3 linked regions of the Homo sapiens genome follow. The protein of the gene in region 3 purifies or fractionates together with the protein of the main gene of each other region. This does not show direct contact. Each region holds a gene or a part of one and is shown on either strand. Other genes may lie near its edges.

Region 1 (7,967 bases), on a different chromosome or scaffold from region 3:
GATCACAGACTGCACTCAAACCTGGGCAACAGAGTGAGACTCTCTCCTCCCTGCAAAAATCAATTTAAAAAATACATTTTTAATTAAAAAAATTAAAATGTTTACTTTCCTGTCCTCTGTAAAAAAAAAAAAAAAAAAATTCAAAAATAAAGGCTGGGTGCAGTGGTTCACGCCTGTAATCCCAGCACTTTGGGTGGTCAAGATGGGCAGGTCGCTTGAGGCCAGGAGTTCAGGACCAGCCTGGGCAACATGGTGAAACCCCGCCTCTACAAAAATACCTGTCTCTACAAAAATACAAAAATTAGCCAGGAAATGGTGGCACACACTTGTAGTCCCAGCTACTCAGGAGGCTGAGGCGAGAGAATCGCTTGAACCCGGGAGGCGGAGGTTGCAGTGAGTCAAGATTGTACCACTGTACTCCAGCCTGAGTGACAGAGCAAGGCTCCGTCTCAAAAAAAAAAAAAAAAGCACAGACCATTAGGCTACATACAAATGCAAGATTGCTGTTTACAAGAGACACAATTTAAAACATACAGTTGTTAAACACTAGACACAAGGAAACTGGAGTGACTACACTGTCAGAAAAAATGAGGCTTCTGGACAAGAATATTGCTAGAGATCAAGATGGACATTTCTTAATGATAAAAGGGCCAATTCATCAAGCAGAATTAACATTCCTAAATGCATACGAACTTACTAATAGCTTCAAAATTCATGAAGCAAAAAATTGAAAAGATATGGGAGGCCAAGGCAAGAGGATTGCTTGAGCCGGAGTTCAAAGACCAGCCTGGACAATAGGGAAACCACCGTCTTAATTAAAAATAAAAAATTAAAAGGATAAAAAGAAAATAATATGACTGTGTAGAAAATCTTTAAAAATTTACAAAAAAATAAAGAAAACTAAGTGACTTTGGCCAGGCTGTAGGATACAAGATCAATATACAAAAATCAATTTTATGTATTCTTATATATACACAAGGTAATATAAAGTTTTAAAAAATATTTGCTGGCCGGGCACGGTGGCTCATGCCTGTAATCCCAGCACTTTGGGAGACTCCGTCTCAAAAAAAAAAAGTATTTACAATAGTATCAAGAACAGGAACAAATTTAACAAAATGTGAAAAGACTTTTATATTAAAAACTACAAAACATTGCTAAGAGAAGATTAAAATGACATAAATGGAAATAATTGTATGTATGTTTCATAGGGAAAAAAGTATTCATGCAATATTTGTGTAATTAAAATAATTAATTAAAAATAAATAAAATCCTTAACAAAGAAAATGAGATATACCCAGAACTAGACAGAGAAAATGGGTGTGAGTACTTTTGTAAAGAAATCTTGTTTCGATTCCAAGCAGGAAAAAATGTGCTTGAGACGATGCTAGCACACACGTAAAAAATCCAAGTTTTCCATTAATTACAAATCCACAAATTATATAACTTTTCTAAATGAGTTCAAAAGATTACAGGCTAGATCACTGCAGGGCACAAAGTCTTCCAACAAGGCGTTAATATGTAAAGCACAACCTTAATCAGAACATTTCCTTCTCTCCATAAATTTTGGGTCGAGCCTTCACCACTCAATCCCTCGAGTTCCCCAAGGGTGGCCCTTGGCGGGTTTTTTCCAAAGTGGGGCCAGAGGTCTGAACACCTGAGGTGAAATTCAAGTTCACGAGCAAGTCAACTAAATTTCAGAGCTCCCAACTTCCCTACATCGGTAAAATGGAGCCTAGCAAAGCCTACAAAAGACTAGGGGTTACCAGACTGCTTTAGAAAGGCGACACTTGGCCGGGCACGGTGGCTGACGCCTGTAATCCCAGCACTCTGGGAGGCCGAGGCGGGTAGATCACGAGGTCTGGAGTTCGAAACCATCCTGGCCAACATGGTGAAACCCCGTCTCTACTAAAAATACAAAAAATGAGTCGGGCATGGTGGCACGCGCCTGTAGTCCCACCTACTCGGGAGGCTGAGGCAGAAGAATCGCTTGAACCCCGGAGGCGGAGGTTGCAGTGGGCCCAGATCGCGCCACTGCACTCCAGCCTGGTGACAGAGCGAGACTCCGTCTCAAAAAAAAAAAAAAAAAGAAAGAAAGAAAAGAAAGGCGACACTTAACACACAGCAGGCGCTAAACACACATTCTTTGGGTTTGCATTTTGTCCAGAGCTAAGAGTAACAGGCATTCGGCAAAGGCTGGGGACGGGACGGGGACGGGGGCGGACGCGCGGAACTGAAAGAATCTCAGACTTCGGGTTCCAGTTCCCCCAGCCGGACTAAGCTACTCGCCCGGCCCCGGGCCCAAAGGCCTCAGGTGGTAACGGCCAAAGGGTCACCGCCTCCGCGGGGCGCTGCGTCCACAACACGGGTGGGGAAACGGTCAAGGTTTGCGGCGTTTGGGTTCATGACTGCAAAAACACCGTCCACTACGGGCCAAGCCGAGTGCCATGCCCTGCACCTACGTCTAAGCTCACAGCAGCCCGCACTGGGGCGAGGAATCCTGAGGAGGCTCGCCCCGGTCTCTGGGACTGGGCTCTCGCCGCGCTGCCTCAGGGCGCAAGTTCCACGCGCTTCGCCGGGCGCAGAAAAGCACCCCCCGCTCCGCGGCGCCCAGGCCGCCTCCCCCGACAACGCACCTCCGCAGCGACGCCTGCGCCTGGAAGGGGCTCGGCATCTAGACCGCAGCCCCGCGCGGGCCACACTCCCCAGCAAGTGCCTCGGCAGCGTCCCAGGAGACTCGCCGCGCTCGCCGGAGCTGGACGTGGCGCCGAGGTCCGCGTCGCCGCCCGCACCCCGGTGCTCACCTGTACCACGCAGCAGCCCAGGGCATCCTTCTGAGCGTCAGGAGGGACGATGTTCCGGGGCGTGTGGCCCGGGTGCAAGAAATGAACCATGGCAACCCCGGCGGCGGGGCGTCAAAAAGAGAGCCGGCGTCGAGCCGGAGCCCGGATCCCGCGAGAACCAAGCGGGCGGCTGCCAGGACGCGCCCACCACGCCTGCGAGGCACACGGAGCTAGCGCCGCGCCCTGCCGGCGAGCTTTTGAAATGCCCGGCGAGGCGACGCGCACGCGGGGGCCGGCCCGCCGCAGACCCCACCCCCCGGGCGGCCTCCTAGCCCCATCCGCCCTCCGACACGCCGCTGCCGGGGCCAACCGTTCTCCTCCCGCCTCCCCAGCCTCCCCAGCCTCCCCAGACCAACCTGCCACGACCCAGCCGCTCACCCACTCCTTCCCAGCCCTGCACCTCAGGGCTTGAGAGGATATTCCCCGAGGACCGGCTGTGTAGGTTTGGGGAATACTGTATATATATATACATGTACACACACACACACACACACACACACACACACACACACACATATTCATTATTTCTATATATGTATATATTTTTTAAAGCTTTCATACATTAAAATATATATTTCAAAGACTTTGCCCCTGAAAATCTGGCAACAGCACCTCTCTAACGGTCCTCTCTGTTTCAACTCCTTAGAGTATCTGGATAAATCAAATATAAAACGAATACAAAATATTGGCAAGTATCTACCAAAAAATCTATTTAGCTTTCTTGTTACTTAAAAAGTACTCGAGAAGACCCTTATAACCTGCTCCAAGAAAGAAACCCCGAGAGACCCTTCTAACTTTCTCCAGGAAAGAAACTCCACAAGTTAGTACACATTAGCTAATTTAAGAGAAAGCAATACCTTGGAAAAGGAAAGTTCTCAAGAGCATGAGCCTTGGAGTTTGAATCCTGAATTAGAATGCCCGCTCAGCCATCTAGTGTTTGAGAACCTGGAGCAAGATTCTTGATGTCTCTGAAGCTCAACTTCCTCATCAGTAAAATAGAATGAGAATGCTTTATCTCACAGACTTAATGTAAGGATTAAATAATGTATGTAAAACACATCACAATGCTTTTTACATAGTAAGTCCTTGATAAGTGGATTGGATTCAGATGTTAAAATTATTTTTAAGTACTTTGCCTAATGCTTTTCTTTCATTTATTTATTCTTTTATTTAATCCACTTACTACAAGAAGAAAAAAAATCCTGTGCTGTAGGTATCATCCCCATTTTTCTCACAGGGAAACTGAAGAACTGACAGGTTGAATAGACAACACGTTTTTTGGCCAGCTGATGAGTGGCCAACCTGGGAGTCAAAATTGAGTTTTCTTACTGCAAGTCCAATCAATATGCTTTTTTTTTTTTTTTTTTTTTAGACGGAGTCTCGCTCTGTTGCCCAGGCTGGAGTGCAGTGACGCGATCTCAGCTCACAGCAACCTCCGCCTCCTGGGTTCAAGTGATTCTCCTGCCTCAGCCTCCCAAGCAGCTGGGACTCCAGGCGCGCGCCACCACACCCGGCTAATTTTTGTATTTTTAGTAGAGACAGCGTTTCACCATGTTGGCCAGGATGGTCTAGATCTCCTGACCTGGTGATCCGCACGCCTCGGCGTCTCAAAATGTTGGGATTACAGGCGTGAGCCACCGTGCCCCCGCCAATATGCTTTTGTTAACGGTGGAGGGTGTTCATGTTCTTGGTGTCTTGAACAAAGAATTGGACAAAACGCACAAACAAGGAAGGAATGAAGGGATTTATTGAAAATGAAAGTACACTCCACAATGCCACAATGTGGGAGTGGGCCCGAGCACTGGGGCTCAAAGACCCCGTTACAGAATTTTTGGGAGTTTAAATACCCTCTACTTGGGGTATGCCCTATGTAAATGACGAGGATGAAGGAAAGTTACAGTCATTTCCTCGGCTTTTGCCCAATGGAGAGGATATTTCCTATTACAGCTGAAGTGTGAATTTCAGCAATTTTAACTTTAATATAGAACCTGGTAAGTTATGTTCTCATAAGGTTTGACTATTTCCAGCATATCTAGAGGTGTGGCCAACTGCATATGTCCCAGGCCTTACCGAGCTAGAAAACAGGCAAGTTAAACAATTTTCAAAAGCCAAGGAAGCAGTTTATGACCTTAAAGCATTTAGCAAACCTAATATTTGAACATAATTTTGACCACATGTTTACATTTTGAAGACATTTGTATTTTATCAATAATCTTTAAACCCATCTTTATTTCCCAAAGATTACCCAAGTCACATGAACTAAATAAAAGGCATTATGTTTTTCACTTTTCTGACAAAATATTTTATTTAAGCTCTTATTATTAAACCAATTAATTTAAAACGTAACACATGAGGCCAGGCACGGTGGCTCATGCCTGTAATCCCAGCACTATGGGAGGCCGAGATGGGTGGATCGCCTGAAGTCAGGAGTTCAAGACCAGCCTGGCCAACATAGTGAAACCCAATCTCTACTAAAAATACACAAAAAAATTACCTGGGCATGGTGGCGCATCCCTGTAATCCCAGCTACTTGGGAGGCTGAGCCAGATTTGCTTGAACCCAGGAGGCAGAGGTTGCAGTAAATTTAGATTGCGCCATTGCACTCCAGCCCCGGTGACAAAGCGAGACTTTGTTGCAAAAAGTAAAAATAAGTAAATAAAAGTGGCTGGGTGCAGTGGCTCACACCGTAATCCCAACATTTTGGGAGGCCAAGGCAAGTGAATCACCTGAAGTCGGGGTTTGAGACCAGCCTGACCAACATGGAGAAACCCCGTTTCTACTAAAAACACAAAAATTAGCTGGGCATGGTGGTGTGCGCCTGTAGTCCCAGCTGCTCGGGAGGCTGAGGCAGGAGAATTCCTTGAACGCAGGAGGCGGAAGTTGCAGTGAGCCGAGATGACGCCACTGCACTCCAGCCTGGCGACAGAGTGAGACTCTCTTTCTTAAAAAATAAATAAAAATAAAAAAATAGGGCCGGGCGCGGTGGCTCACGCCTGTAATCCCAGCACTTTGGGAGGCCGAGGCGGGCGGATCACGAGGTCAGGAGATCGAGACCATCCCGGCTAAAACGGTGAAACCCCGTCTCTACTAAAAATACAAAAAATTAGCCGGGCGTAGTGGCGGGCGCCTGTAGTCCCAGCTACTTGGGAGGCTGAGGCAGGAGAATGGCGTGAACCCGGGAGGCGGAGCTTGCAGTGAGCCGAGATCCCGCCACTGCACTCCAGCCTGGGCGACAGAGTGAGACTCCGTCTCAAAAAAAAAAAAAAAAAAAAAAATAGGCTTTGCCGTTTCTGTCATGGGCACAAAGCGGTGGCCTGATTGTCAGTCTTCTCCTGGCATTTTTAAGGCCAGGAGCCAAGTGCTGCTTGTGGGCAAATAACCTACAGAGCGGTTTTGCTTTTAAAATTATTGTTATTGGCCAGGCGTGGTGGCTCACTCCTGTAATCCCGGCACTGTGGGAGGCCGAGGTGGATGGATCACTTGAGGTCAGGAGTTCGAGACCAGCCTGACCAACATGATGAAACTCTCTCTCTACTAAAAATACAAAAATTAGCCAAGCGGGGTGGCAGGCGCCTGTAATCCCAGCTACTTGGGAGGCTAAAGCAAGAGAATAACTTGAACCTGGGAGGTGGAGATTGCAGTGAGCCGAGATTGTGCCATTGCACTCCAGCTTGGGTGACAAAAAGGAAACTGTGTCTCAAAAAAAATAAATAAATAAAATCGGCTGGGCGCAGTGGCTCATGCCTGTAATCCCTGCACTTCGGGAGGCTGAGGTGGGTGGATCACCTGAGGTCAGGAGTTCAAAACCAGCCTGGCCAACATGATGAAACTCCATCTCTAGTAAAAATACAAAATTAGCCGGGCTTGGTGGCAGATGCCCGTAATCCCAGCTACTCGGGAGGCTGAGGCGGGAGAATCGTTTAAACATGGGAGGCAGAGGTTGCAGTGAGCCCAGATTGCGCCATTGCATTCCAGCCTAGGCAACAGAGCAAGACTCCATCTCAGACAAAAATAAAAAATAAATAACAATAAATTTAAAAAATGAAATTATCATTGTTATTATTTGGAGCACAGAACAGTCGATCTGGGCACCCTGTCCTGTGTCTTTTGATACTCTGTGTTTAAGAAAAAAAAATCAATTATGTGTTTTATTTCATGAATCAGTTTTGGAGGGCTTCTGGCTATCCTTTTTTCCTCATATTCTACTGAGATTATTTTTTATTTTTTTATTTTTTTTTTGAGATGGGGTCTCACTCTGTCACCCAGGCTGGAGTGCAGTGGTGCAATCTCGGCTCACTGCAAGCTCTGCCTCCCAGGTTCATGCTGTTCTCCTGCCTCAGCCTCCCAAGTAGCTGGGACTACAGGCGCCCACCACCACGCCTGGCTAACTTCTTGTATTTTTAGTAGAGACGGGGTTTCACCGTGTTAGCCAGGATGGTCTCGATCTCCTGACCTTGTGATCCGCCCGCCTCGGCCTCCCAAAGTGCTGGGATTACAGCTTGAGCCACTGCGCCCGGCCCTTCTACTGAGATTATACAAAGCAGCAAGTTGCCAGGCGCAGTGGCTCACGCCTGTAATCCCAGTCCTTAGGGCGACAGAGACAGGGGAATAGCTTGAACCCAGGAGTACGAGACCTGCCTGGGCAATATGGCGAGACCCCATTCCCACAAAAAGGAGGAAAAAAAGGACAAAAAACAAAAACAAAGCTGCATGTTTTCCACAGAGTAGGAAATCCAATGGCAAGATAGTGTGTAGGTTTGGGCTGGGTGCAGTGGCTCAAGCTTGTAATTAATCCCATTGGCAGGCCAAGGTGGGAGGAGTGCTTGAGTCCAGGATTTCGATGCCAGCCTGGGCAACATAATGAGACACCCCCCACCCCCGCCACATCCTTTTTTTTTTTCTTGAGACTGAGTCTCACTTTTGTTGCCCATGCTAGAGTGCAGTGGCATGATCTCGGCTCACTGCAGCCTCCGCCTCCTGGGTTCAAATGATTCTCCTGTCTCAGCCTCCAGAATAGCTGGGATTACAGGCATGTGCCACCACGCCCGGCTAATTTTGTATTTTTAGTAGAGACAGGGTTTCTCCATGTTGGTCAGGCTGGTCTTGAACTCCCGACCTCAGGTGATC
Region 2 (7,023 bases), on a different chromosome or scaffold from region 3:
ATTGACAATTTTTTATCAGGATTGTTTTTGAATAAGTAGTGAACTGAAGTCTGTACCTCCATCCTAGAGACTCGTGCAAAGAAGTCTTAATTCTTCTTTCTCATGAAAACTCATCAGTGGAGAACACTTGTCAGAGTGGTCTGCATGTCTTCTCACCACCTCCCCCATCCTTGTATCTTTTCACCTCTAGGAAAATATCCCTGGATCCTTTATCCATTCCTCTTGACCATCCTGGTTGCTCTCATGGGAACATTATCCAGTTTCTCTACCTATATCTCAAAGTGTGGTTGTTTATGTTAGGAGGAAGGAGAAGAGGGAGGGGGTCGAGGTCAAGAGGTGACCCATGACCACATGCCTGGGTCTGAAGTGGGGCGTATGAAGCTTCCTTGCTCAGGTCACAATGCTCATATCACCTTTAACATAACTTTGTTACTTGTGTGTACACTCTCTTTATTTCCTCAGGGCTTAGTTTCAGGAAGGGACTATTATCATCCTTGCTTTAAAATTAAACTATAAACAAAATTCCTTCCATAGTTAGCTTGGCCTACGTGCAGAGATAGGCAGAGGCCGTTAACCTACAAGATGTCACCATGGGCAGGGGGCAGGGTGCGGGGAGCAGAATGGAGCCACTCATGTTCAGCCTCCTTTTGTCTGTTATAATTTCCCCATTTTCAAAGCCAGTGATGTTGCATGTCTCTCACCTGTCTTCTGTATTCTCTCTGTCTCTCACCACAACCAGAAAAGGGTCTCTGCTTTTAAGGACCCATGTCATTAGACAGAGCCCACCTGGATAATCCAGGCTGAACTCTCCTACCTATGGGTCCTTAATCTAATCACACCTGCAAAGTTGCTTTGTTACATAAGGTAACATATTACAGGTTCCAGGGATTAGGATGTGGACGTCTTTGACTTGGAGGAGCAAGATTGATTTTAGACCCTCATCACTGGTGGGATTGGATTTCTGATGTAGCCCTTCCTTGTCCAGGACTGGGCAGGCAGGTGTGAATCTGTATAAGGAAGGCCTCAAGTTACTGTTCCTGGGCTCAACCAGCTACATAGCAGATTTGTACCACCCAGGTACACAGCCTGCATAGCAGATTTGCTGTCTACAGCCATTCTCACCTTTTCTCTTTTCAGGAGCATTTGCAATTATACGGTCATTGCTTTCTTTTTGGAGCCTCCCGTGCAGTTTTAATCTACTTTCAGAACTGGAGAGCACATCACATTTTGGTCAATAGCCTAGACATACAGTTGCATAACCCTTAACTTACCAGTGCTCATTATTTGCATTATTTCATTTTCTGTTCAAGTACTTTGAAAAGCCAAACAACTTTAAATACTACATAAAGTATGCATGCCTCTTAATATTGTTGGGATTCATCTCATTGTTATTTCTGTTACTCAAACCAGAAATCAGCTCCTCTTTCTAGATTGCAAACTAATAATAGTAGCAGAATAATTAATAGTACTATAGAGTAATAGCTACAGTTTGTTGATGCCGGCCAGGAGCCAGGCAGTGTTCCAGGTGTGTGATCTCATTAGATCCTTGCAGACATGATAGTGATGGAATTGTTACTTCCATTTTTTATAGGGCAACTGAACTCAGGTGATATTAAGCTGTTTGCTCAAGCTCATGCAGATCTAGGATTTAAACTCTAGTTTGTTTGACTCCAAAGTGCTCACTCTTCCCGAATGCAGATTCCAGTTGTTAATGTTAGATGAGATGGCACCTTAGTGCCGGTATAGATTCCACCACTGGTCATTCCAGAGGTGTGTTTTGAAGCAGAAGCCAATTAGTACTTTGCCTAAATGGGAATAAACTTGGGCCCAGCCTTTAGTACCATACGGCCCCTCCCCGTGGACTTAAGAAGCCTCTCTGTGTTTCAGCCACACACAGCACCTTGACTTGCATGAGCAGGGAGTTCCAGTGCGAGGACGGGGAGGCCTGCATTGTGCTCTCGGAGCGCTGCGACGGCTTCCTGGACTGCTCGGACGAGAGCGATGAAAAGGCCTGCAGTGGTGAGTGCCGGTCCACGGGCTGGGCTGGGCTGGGCTGGGCTGGGAGGCTCGCTTACCCCAGGGCCCCTCCTGTGTAGACCTTGAGCTAGGACCCTTTTGAACTGTTGCTCAATCTAAGGATAAAACAGATTTGTGCCTAGTTTTGGAGCCCCAAGTGAGGTGAGCCTTGGCCAGACTCTGATACAACATGCAGCTGTCTCCTCCCTGTTAGTGAAATGCTAGTCTTGGATTTTTTTTTTTTTATGGACTTCCCACCTCATGCCCATACACCATGGCTCTCACAGTCTCAATCTGCTGGTGGGATTAACTCAGTTCTTATCTCTGGAGTGTCTAGTAATGGACCCTATGACATGGTCCTTGGACTTGTAGCATTCTCTATGGAGAAATAGGCTTAAATTGTCATAGGCAGGAGGAAGATGAAATTCGAGGGAAAATATCACGACCGGAAAAGTAGGAGACCCTAGGAGGGATTGTATAGGGAGGTTTCAACTACATTTTCTGAGATTTCTTTTCAGATAATGATTATGGCCTCCTGATAATCTAGATCATGGTAGTTCTGTTTAAAAGCAGGAGTCCTTTGAAATCTAAGGATTTGTAAGATGTAACTTTTTTTTTTTTGTATTTTTAGTAGAGACGGGGTTTAGCCACATTGCCCAGGCCAGTCTCGAACTCCTGAGCTCAGGCAATTTGCCCGCCTCGGCCTCCCAAAGTGCTAGGATTACAGGCGTGAGCCACCACGCCCAGCCAAGATGTAACTTTGTTTGTCTTTTTCTCCTTTATCTCTCTAGATGAGTTGACTGTGTACAAAGTACAGAATCTTCAGTGGACAGCTGACTTCTCTGGGGATGTGACTTTGACCTGGATGAGGCCCAAAAAAATGCCCTCTGCTTCTTGTGTATATAATGTCTACTACAGGTAGGTCCCATCTTTGTCATGGGAGATGAAAATGATGTCTTCATTGCCCCAGGATGTTCTGTAAACTCTCTAGTGGCATGCACCATGCTATTAACGGAGTCAGACATCTCAGCCCCCCATGCTGCTCCAGTGTGACAATATCTTTATTTTTTTTTGGGCCAGGGTGGTTGGAGAGAGCATATGGAAGACTCTGGAGACCCACAGCAATAAGACAAACACTGTATTAAAAGTCTTGAAACCAGATACCACGTATCAGGTTAAAGTACAGGTTCAGTGTCTCAGCAAGGCACACAACACCAATGACTTTGTGACCCTGAGGACCCCAGAGGGATGTAAGTGTTTCAGTTAATTTTTATGGCATGGGTAAGACCTCAGGTCGGGGTTTGTGAGGGTCTTTCTGAGTATTCTCAGGAATGTGGGAACATATGTGTGCCTCACATGTACAGAAGTATGGTGGCTAAGCTTTATAGTCTTGCCAGAGTTGTCAAACATCTGTTCTTCTTACTGCATCAGAGACTGTTCTTGTACCTTAAGTTAATTTAAGATTCTCTCCACCATTGCCCTCTTGCATTTTTTGTCTAGTTTCTACCTCTACGTTCCTCCTCTAGATATTTCCTAGTACTTGGTACTTAGGAGGAGGTCATCGTCATTAAAATATGAGGCATATCAGCAATTTTGTGGCTAAGTTTTTTTCTTTTTGGAGACAAGGTCTCACTCTGACACCCACACTGGAGTGCAGTGGAGGCGCAATCACTGCTCACCACCTCAGTCTTCCCAGGCTCAGGTGGTCCTCCCGCCTCAGCCTCTCGCATAGCTGAGACTATAGGTGTGTGCCACCATGCTCAGCTAGCTTTTTGTATTTTTGTACAGAAAGGGTTTTGCCGTGTTACCTAGGCTGGTCTTGAGCTACTGAGCTCAAGCAATCCACCTACTTCAGCCTCCCAAAATGTTGGGATTACAGGTGTGAGCCACTGCACCTGGCTTTGTGGCTAAGTTTTTAAGAAATTTACCAAATTTATGTGTCTAAGAGAGTTCCTCGCCTCCTCCCTACTTCAAAGTAGTTGACATGAGCAACTGTCTGCTTGAATGTCATCTTTTTTCATTGCCTAAAGTATCCTGAATATGCTAGCGCTAAACTCATTAAGGAGCCTGCTTTGAAGATGATCAAATTCATTTGGATATAGAAATTCTGTGATGTTACAAAATTAGTCTTATTTTTTGGTAGTCATGCCCACAGTACAGTTTTTGTTGTACAAGAAGCAGAGGCAGCAGGTGCTGTCATTGACAATTAAGATCTCAGCATGGAAGTCTCAGGGTCAGTGGTGACTCAGCCTGCCCAAGTGATTCTATCCTGCAGCCCTTATGAGCCACAAATTTACCACACACTCAACTGAGCCATGATGTGATGTGTGGACGGCACACCTTGCTTTTTGGAAGAAGAGGAAAAGTGTCTTTTCAATGTGACGACCAAGCTAGCAGCCTTTCTAGTGGATAGTCTCAATGCCGGCTGTGGAGTCGTTCTTGTCCTTGTTCTAAGCCCAGGAAAATTCCTCTGGTTGGCTGCTATGCAGATGGGTTTTAACCTTGAGTTGACTCTTTTTCTAGTGCCAGATGCCCCTCGAAATCTCCAGCTGTCACTCCCCAGGGAAGCAGAAGGTGTGATTGTAGGCCACTGGGCTCCTCCCATCCACACCCATGGCCTCATCCGTGAGTACATTGTAAGTACCTTCCATGAGTTGGCTGTATGTGTGTTGGGGGTGCTAGGAGATTTCTGGGTATTCTGTATGACGAGGGGGTTGATTTGGTTTAGCTTTGTAGGTGATGACCCATCCGTCAGAACATTTTGCTCCTCACCATCTTTTCTCTCCTCCAGCCTCCTTGCAAGATATTAGGATGCCCTGGACCTTTGGTTCCCTTTACTCACATTTTTTTTCTTCTCCCTTTAGGTAGAATACAGCAGGAGTGGTTCCAAGATGTGGGCCTCCCAGAGGGCTGCTAGTAACTTTACAGAAATCAAGAACTTATTGGTCAACACTCTATACACCGTCAGAGTGAGTGTCGTCATCCATTCCAGCCATCCATGCAGTCTTAGAACTGAGCGAAATTGCTGCTGTTTTGTGAGAACTCTCTACTCACCTTTGTGAGATGCATATTAGTAATCTGCAAAATACCCAACTTCTTGCCCTGGGACGGGGGAGCTCAGAGTTTCTTTCAGTCTCTTAAATGGACACCACAAAGAGCTTGACATCAGAGTTTCTGTAGATAACCGGGCGTTTATGGGAATGCCGCTTTCCCTGCTTTTAACTCCGGTATTCTGCTAGCTTTCCAGCTCCTATACTTTTGCAGTCAGCTCTTTCCTGCTTATCTTTAGCTGCAGGATGATGCAGAGCTATGATAAGTAGTCTTTCTAAACTGATTTTATGAGGTTCTTATGAAATATATTTTTAGTATTTTTAGCAGAAAGAGATAGATTTTGTGAACAACATGTTTGCTGAGACCATTAAGTGTGCACATTCATGACTCTCACACTGATAATTTTGTCAGTACCCTTTTTGTATATGTGTGTATTTATGAACACACCCCCCCATACACCTGCCCTTTAGAAGAACCTTGATATTTGTGGATCAATAGAAATTTTCTGATCTCAGGACTGTCATAATGCCCTTTACCCAAGCTCCTTCCCTTGGCTTTTTTGCCCTCTTATTTCAGATGCTGGGGCCTCTGAATATTCTGGATCACTCTGTATAAAATTTTTCCAGCCTCACTGCCAAAATCTCACCCCTTTAGCTCATTCAGTATTCTTACTGTATGGTGTATGGTGTATTGCCTTTATTTCATATTAATTCACCCTCTGATTTGAAAAGGTGGCTGCGGTGACTAGTCGTGGAATAGGAAACTGGAGCGATTCTAAATCCATTACCACCATAAAAGGAAAAGGTAAATGATCCCAGCATTTGCAGATTTAGAGAAAATATTATACAAACCCTTTCAAATGACTTTCAGTATGACCGGAAAATGGAGAAACGTAGTTTAGAAAAACATCACACAACTTTCTTCTCCCCAACACACGCACATTTTTGGGTGTCTCTGTAGTGCTTTAGATAGAGTCTTTTTGGGGTGACTGAGTGTCTTTTTCCTCCTAGTATTGAGCATTTCTTCTAATGCAGACATACAAAGGGATTTCCAAAGGCCATCATGCGCAGCCCTTTGTGAGTAGTCAAAATATCTAAAATAGAAGGAGTCCTTCCTTCTCACCAAAGCTGAAGATGATTTTGTGCATGTTCACTTACGGGGTTTTAAAGAAAGCACCATGCTGACTCTTGTTATTCTCCCAGTGGCACTGGCAAACTGTGTGTAGGTGGTTTTTTATCTTGTACTAGAGCTGATATTAGTAATAACTGATGGCTTGCCAAGGGCAGGACACTCTAGAGTGTTCACTGCTTTGCGTACATCAGCTCATCTAATTGAACAGTCAGAACAACTACAAGAAAGGATAAGGAACTGGAATGAGGTTATGTCACTTGTCCCAGGCCACACAATCAGTAAGTGACAGAGCTGGCCCTGGAACCTGATCTGCCTGACTCCAAAGCCTGTGCTCTTAACCACTGTGCTCCACGCTTCTCTCTGGGCTGAGACACATGCGGCCTACTGGACCGCCCTGCTTGCCGGGGGTGGCGGGCTCAGCATCTTGCACGAGTGCCTCATGAGGGCAGAGATCTGGTCTGTTTTTCTCTACTCTATCACGGGCATCTAGTAGAGACTAAGGAAATAATTGATGATTGAGTGAATCGAAGCAGTTAAATGAAGGGTTCTGGCATACTTTGGGAGATGGACTACAACTCATTTTCCAGAGTGGTTTTCCTGACCTTAGCCTTGACACTGGGGACTTGCATTTCTGGACTTCCAGGTATTAAAACCAGATGGACACTGTGGCATGCAATAGGACTGGAAGATTTTACTTTAACCTAAGCCTGTGAGGAATAGGCTCTGGGTCATGGAGAGTCACTATCTAGTCCCCTCTAAAATCTGGAGCCTTTGAGATCAGGGCCCAAGGCGGCCAAACGTAGTGCCACCAGATGGTCTTTGGAG
Region 3 (7,023 bases):
GGCTGGAGTGCAGTGGCATGAATAAGATCACTTCAGCCTCGACCTCCTGGGCTCAAGAGATCCTCCCACCTCAGCCTCCTGAATAGCTGGGACCACAGGCATGAGCCACCATGCCCAGCTAATTTTTTTAATTTTGCAGAGACGGGGTCTCACCATGTTTCCCAGGCCGGTCTCAAACTCCTGAGCTCAAGTAATCCTCCCACCTCAGCATCCCAAAGTGCTGGGATTATGGTGTGAGCCACTGTGCCAGCCAAATCTAGACAATTAAATGCCCACATAGTAAATGAATGTATCAATGAATATATAAATATATCATGAGCCACAAGCATTTGTTTTATTTTCTTCAATTGTAAGAAACTCGAGGCTGGGCATAGTGGCTTACGCCTGTAATCCCTGCACTTTGGGAGGCCGAAGCAGATGGACTGCTTGAGGCCAGGGGTTTCAGACCAGCCTGGGCAACAACAGTGAAACCCTGTCTCTACTAAAAATATGGCCAGGCGCAGTGGCTCACACCTGTAATCCCAGCACTTTGGAAGGCCAAGGCGGGTGGATCACCTGAGGTCAGGAGTTCGAGACCAGCCTGGCCAACATGGTGAAACCCCATTTTTATTAAAAATACAAAAAAAGCCGGGCGTGGTGGCATGCACCTATAATCCCAGCTATTCGGGAGGCTGAGGCAGGAGAATCGCTTGAACCTGGGAGGCGGAGGTTGCAGTAAGCCGAGATTGCGCCATTGTACTCCCGCCTGGGCAACAACAGCAAAACTCCATCTCAAAAAACAAAACAAAACAAAAAACAAACAAGCGAGCAAACAAAAAAACCCACAAAAATTAGCCGGGTGTAATGGCATGCACCTGTAATCCCAGCTACTTGGGAGGCTGAGGCACAGAGACTGCAGTGAGCCAAGATAGCACCACTGCACTCCAGCCTGGGCTACACAGAGAGACTCTAAAAAAAAAAAAAAAAAAAAAGAAAAGAAAAAAGAAGAAACAAGCATATTTTTAGGTTGAGTAGAGAATCACAAAACAAGCAGAATATAAATGAAGAAAGGATGTCCATGAAAGGAAGTGTGTTCTAGACCCTGGTATAGGAATTGGCCATGACTGGGGCAAGACCTCTTCCAGTAAGGAAAAGAGAAGTTGAGATGAACATGTAAGGGCTGCTGATCAAGCAATACAAGACAGGAGACTTTCTTTTCAACCTGAAAGCCTGCTAACACATCAGCACTCACATGCTGAGACATCTGTGCCTGGAGACAAAAACTGTCTACTTGGCTGGATGCAGGGACTCATGGAGGTGGAGGGGTTGACTTGTCTGAGGTTGGGGCCAGTCCCCTAATCTGCCTGGATGGCAGAACCATTCACAGAAACTTGGGAGGTGGCAGGAGTGAGCAAGATCATGGGTTCCTTGTTAGGCATGTTGAGTTTTGTGCTTTTGAGATTTTCAAGTGCAGATGTGGCACTGAGGAGGGGACAATCTGGAACAGACTCTGAAGGGCTGAACAGGGACTGCACAGACACTCAGGGTTGGATGAGCAGCTCAAGGAACCCACGCGGGCAGAGGCCAAGGCTCTGCAGTGGCACCAATCCACACACATGACAGATGGCCTCAGTGCCCTCAGCAGCCTGAGTGTGGGACACAGAAGGTCAAATGTCACCCTGAGGTTTTTGGAAAACAGGAGATATAGGAAGACATGGGCAAACTACTGCTTCTTAGTGTCTGATTGACACTCAGGGAATGGGTGGAAGGAGAAGGTGGGAGAGGCTGATAGGCAGAATATAAGTGGAAAGAGAAATTGGGAGAGTAAGAAAGGCCCTATTCCCTAGAGTTCAGAAGGAAATGTAACATAGCATCACTCTTTAAGGTTAATAATGACATTCGGATGAGTCACTTACTATGGCTCAGAAACTATCCAGTTTTATGCATTAATGTATCACATAACATCTTTAAACTGCCCAATGACATAAAAATGATTTCTAGGCCAGGCGCGGTGACTCACGCTTGTAATCCCAGCACTTTGGGAGGCCGAGGCGGGTGGATCACGAGGTCAGGAGATCGAGACCACGGTGAAACCCCGTCTCTACTAAAAATACAAAAAAAAAAAAATTAGCTGGGCGTGGTGGCGGGCGCCTGTAGTCCCAGCTACTCGGGAGGCTGAGGCAGGAGAATGGCGTGAACCCGGGAGGCGGAGCTTGCAGTGAGCCGAGACTGTGCCACTGCACTCCAGCCTGGGTGACAGAGCGAGACTCCGTCTCAAAAAAAAAAAGATTTCTAATAACACTTTTCAGGAACAGACTCAATGTAGTGGACTGAGAGTAGGTGCTCACCAAACCTTCTGCTCTTCTCCTTGGACAAGCAGCTCAGCCACATTTCCCAGTCCCATGGACCCAAGCCAAATGCCTAGTTCCTGTGGGTGGAATGTGAGGGGAGTTGGTATTTCTGGAAGTGGGTTTAACTTCCCTTATTCCCTCAATTCTCTGCCAGCTCGAGGACGTTAGGATAATCTTAATGCAACAGGCTGATGACAGAAGGAACCTGGGTCCTGAATAACTGTGTCGTACAGAGCTCCTCGCTGACCCACACAGTCCCTGGTATGAGTGGGAAAGAGTTTTCATATGTGAACCACTGAGATTTTAGAATCTGTCTGATACAGCAGCTACTGTTAACTTAGCTGAAGTTATATACAAAGACAGGAGATCCTGCAACTTCATCAGGGCCACACAGCAGGTGACTGGCAAGCCACATTTCAGGCCCACACAGTTGGAACCCCTGAACACATCTTAGTTCTTAAATCTCACTTCTTCCCAGGCATGGTGACACTGTGATGGGGCTAGGAGGACAGAGAAAACACAGGTCAAAGGGCTCCATGGCTCTCAAATGGAACATTCTAGTGTGATAGAGTTATATAAGAGTTATATAGAGAGAGGCCACAATGAGAAGCTTCCCAAGAGATTCCAGGGCCAGTGGTCTCCATCCAGTCTTAAGCCAGAAGGGACTCCAACCTGCCCAGATCTTGGCTCCTACCTGGACAGGTGTCTTGGGAGAGGTCTTCCTTCCTGGTCCATGGCTCCTGCCCATGCTCTAGGTGGCAGATCAGCTCAGCTTTGGGAACAGGACACCCTGTTTATGGAGAAAGCAAGTGGACACATGGATGTGGGTGAAAAGAAATAAAGACCTTCAATCTAGTTTGGGACTTCAGGATGGAGACCAGACCTTGGAGTGAAGCTGCTCCTGTGCATGGGAATGAAAAGCTGGCATGTGACCTGGAAACCAAGGTTTCCATAATTACATAAATGCATTATGTAATTCCAAAAGTGAATACTGATAGAGTATCTTAGAGAAAAACTGATGTATTTAAATATTAAATATTGACTCTTTTCATTCCAAACAAGGTATGTGATTTCATTGATCTAAGTCTTATTTTTTTTACATCCTAAGCAATGTTTTATAATGCTCTTCCTCTAGACTAAAGAAAAAATGAGGATTCCAGCTGAGGATTTTCTCACAGCATCCCCAGGAAGTCCACATCGTGATCAACACCATTTTATTGACAAAGAAACCCAGGATCAGGAAGTAAAGTGATTTGCTGAAGAGCACAGAACTGGTGAATGGCTGAGTCAGTAAGGCCCAGGTCCTGCCATCTCTGCTGTCGGTGCTGTTTAACCACAAAGCTCCACAACGCTACCCAGAAAGTCCCGGGTCCAGGTATGCCAACGACAGTGATCTTGATGAGGATGACAATAACAGTACTGATGGCAACAGGATTGCAATGGCTCCCTGCACACAGCGTGGTCTCCCAGGTGCTGTTTTGAGCCCTTTTCACGTAATAACTTTATTAGTCTGTTCTCACGCTGCTAATAAAGACATATCCGAGACTGGGTAATTTATAAAGAGAAAGAGGTTTAAGGGACTCAGTTTCACATGGCTAGGGAGGCCTCACAATCATGACACAAGGCGGAGAAAGGCACATCTTACATGGCAGCAGGCAAGAGGGCATGCGTAGGGGAACCCCCCTTTATAAAACCATCGGATCTCATGAGACTTATGTGCTATCACGACAACACCATGGGAAAAACCCGTCCCCATGATTCAATTACCTCCCACGACACATGGGGATTATTACAATTCAAGGTGAGATATGGGTGGGGACACAGAGCCAAACCCTATCAATAACCCTTTACCCCAGTAACAACCCTGGGATGCAGATGTGGTAAATCCTCATCTCACCAATGAGAACACTGAGGAACAGACAAGGTCAGTCATTTGACCAAGGCCACACAGTTTTTTTTTTTTTTTTTTGAGACGGAGTCTCGCTCTGTCGCCCAGGCTGGAGTGCAGTGGCGTGTGAACTCGGCTCACTGCAAGCTCCGCCTCCCGGGTTCACGCCATTCTCCTGCCTCAGCCCGGGTTCACACCATTCTCCTGCCTCAGCCTCCCGAGGAGCTGGGACTACAGGCGCCTGCCACCACACCTGGCTAATTTTTTTGGATTTTCAGTAGAGACAGGGTTTCACTGTGTTAGCCAGGATGGTCTCGATCTCCTGACCTCATGATCTGCTCACCTCGGCCTCCCAAAGTGCTGGGATTACAGGCGTAAGCAACCGCGCCTGGCCATGGCCACACAGTTTTTAAAGAGCAGAGCTGGGGCTGGACACCAGGGTTCGGGCTCCCCTTCCAAACACCACACTAAGGAGGAAATTACTAGCACCACAGAGTGGGTGGTGGGTAGTGATGACGATGCAGAGATGTGAGCTGGAGGTCATCCTCAGGGACCAGCAGCCAGGGGGAGGGGCAGGTTCAGTGATTCCAGACCTCTGCATTTCATGAACCATTAAAAATTTAAAAAACTGAACGTTCTACTGTGATAGAGTTAAATAAGGACATTTACAGAAACATCAAATAGTATCTACTCTCACCAACATTTCATAAAAAGAGGACTTCTACTTTAAAAAACAAAAAACAACAACAAGAACAACAAAAAACCCTCAAAGGACAGCTTCATAGATGAAGGTTTATCTTCTAAACCGAGTAAGTTTAGGTTCATGTCAGATGAAAATACAGTAGTCATATTTTCTTGACGTTGCTCAGAACATCTTGAAGCCTTTTCAGACTTTGGGAGAGACTGCTCCTCTCAGGGACAGGTAATTTCTAGGATAATAAACTCCCCTGGGAACAAGCACATGCCTTTCATGTGCAATCCACCTAACCCCAAACCATACCCCCAACCACTTCTTTAACAAACTCTCACATACCAAGCCAGTATTTCCCCTGCCCTAAATCAACCCAGGGCCAAGTGCCAGACAACTAGAGATAGTCCCTATGCCCCAAACCTCACTGAAATTACTCAAACTAGCCAGCTCTAAACTGTTTACCATGCCCTGTCTTGCTTTTCCAGAAGAAACCCAATACGCAGGGAAAACTCTCTCTAATCATGTTTTTTCTCTACTCTCACACCATGACAATACAGAACAAGACTTCTATGACCAAATGTGTGGGGGGTTTTCCCCAAACTCCAAGCAGCAGACACCAGTGGGGGGTGTCCTCTAATTCTGTTCCCATACTATCCACGCAGGGATAGCTTCGGATCCCACAGGTTGAGGGCTGAGTCCACAAGACTGCCCCACCCTGCACTCCAGTCACAAGTCCAGGCCTCCAAAATGTCTGACTAATGGGCTTTGAGTTGGGGTTCCCGCGACCCCCTCTTTGGGTTCAACTAATTTGCTGGAGCAGCTCACGGAACTCAAGGAAACACTCATGTTTACCAGTGTATTATAAAGAATATTGCAAAGGATACAGATGAAGAGACTCCTAGGGCAAGGTGTGGCGGAAGGGGCACAGAGCTTCCATGCCCTTCCTGGGGGGACCACCTGGAAGCTCACTCAACTGTGACCTCTTGGAGTCTTTATGGAAGCTTCAAAACATCAACATTCCTTTCCCAGGGTATAGGGTTGGACCCACTCATGAGACCCACAGTCAGAAAGGTGGAGGAACGTTAGAGCGAAAGGAGGGCAGGAGGTCAGAGGCCTGACCCTGAGGCCTAACATACCCAGCATTTTAACAAAAGGGCTATAGGGGTTATGAATCAGGAACGGTGGACAAAAACCAGTATGTATCAGAATACCACACCCAGTTAAAGGCTTTCTCCTCCCCTGTGCTTCCAGCTGTATCCCCATGAGGCCCAGCATATGCCCTCTTCTTTCACGAATTGTAAATAATGAATTCTTCTTTCAATGTTATTAACCTCTCTGTGTCATCACTAAGTCACTGCTATAAATTAAAATCCCATGGGTACAAATTTGCTTTTTTTTGAGACAGGGTCTCACTCTGTCGCCCAGGCTGGAGTGCAGTGGTGTGATCATGGCTCACTGCAGCCTCTACCTCCCAGGCTCAGGCAATCTTCCCTATCTCAGCCTTAGGAGTAGCTGGGACTACAGGCATGTGCCACCACGCCCAGATAATTTTTTTGATTTTTTTTGTAGAGGCTGGGTCTCACTTTATTGCTCAGGCTGGTCTCAAACTCCTGGGCTCAAGCAACCCTCTTGCCTCCCATACTGCTGGGACTACAGGCATGAGCTACCACACTTGGCCCATAGATACAAATTAATACAACTGGTGCACCCAGCAGGCTGACTCTGCGCTCATGGGAAGGCTGAAGATCAGCTCACTAAGGGATTGTACCACACAGAAAGTTCTGCCCGGGGAAGGCTGCGAGATGCTGGCAGCCTTGTGCTTCAGCTGCGTCTGGCATTTGCTGCCATGGGTTTCTGGCCTAAAGTGCTGTAGGAATCCTAAAGGAGTGCTCCTCAGATCCTTCCAGTGTTTAAAGATGCCACAGTCTAGATACGCAAGGGCAGTAATTCCCCAGCTGGCACCGTTCTGGGACAGACTGATCTCCTTAGTCTACTTTTCCAACATAAACACACCTAGTTTCTGGGTTGGTTTACGGGGTAATATACAAGGCTGAGGCTCCTCACAAAAGGTAGTGAGTAGAGACTTCCTCTGATGGATTGTGTTGGGATACAAG

What was found.
Region 1: the proteins of ZNF264 (region 3) and ZYG11A purify together in Homo sapiens (affinity purification with mass spectrometry; 2 studies listed by BioGRID and IntAct, with this or other methods). This does not show direct contact.
Region 2: the proteins of ZNF264 (region 3) and SORL1 purify together in Homo sapiens (affinity purification with mass spectrometry; 2 studies listed by BioGRID and IntAct, with this or other methods). This does not show direct contact.

The regions. Positions count from the first base shown.
Region 1 is NC_000001.11:52,837,808-52,845,774, reverse strand, and holds the start of ZYG11A (protein zyg-11 homolog A), read right to left. Parts: upstream 3,016-7,967; 5' UTR 2,892-3,015; coding exon 2,802-2,891; intron 1-2,801. UniProt on the Homo sapiens protein: Probably acts as a target recruitment subunit in an E3 ubiquitin ligase complex ZYGA-CUL2-elongin BC.
Region 2 is NC_000011.10:121,602,306-121,609,328, forward strand, and holds part of SORL1 (sortilin-related receptor preproprotein), read left to right. Parts: intron 1-1,887; coding exon 1,888-2,019; intron 2,020-2,807; coding exon 2,808-2,934; intron 2,935-3,096; coding exon 3,097-3,266; intron 3,267-4,539; coding exon 4,540-4,652; intron 4,653-4,880; coding exon 4,881-4,985; intron 4,986-5,798; coding exon 5,799-5,871; intron 5,872-7,023. UniProt on the Homo sapiens protein: Sorting receptor that directs several proteins to their correct location within the cell. Along with AP-1 complex, involved Golgi apparatus - endosome sorting.
Region 3 is NC_000019.10:57,201,494-57,208,516, reverse strand, and holds part of ZNF264 (zinc finger protein 264), read right to left. Parts: intron 3,121-7,023; coding exon 3,025-3,120; intron 1-3,024. UniProt on the Homo sapiens protein: May be involved in transcriptional regulation.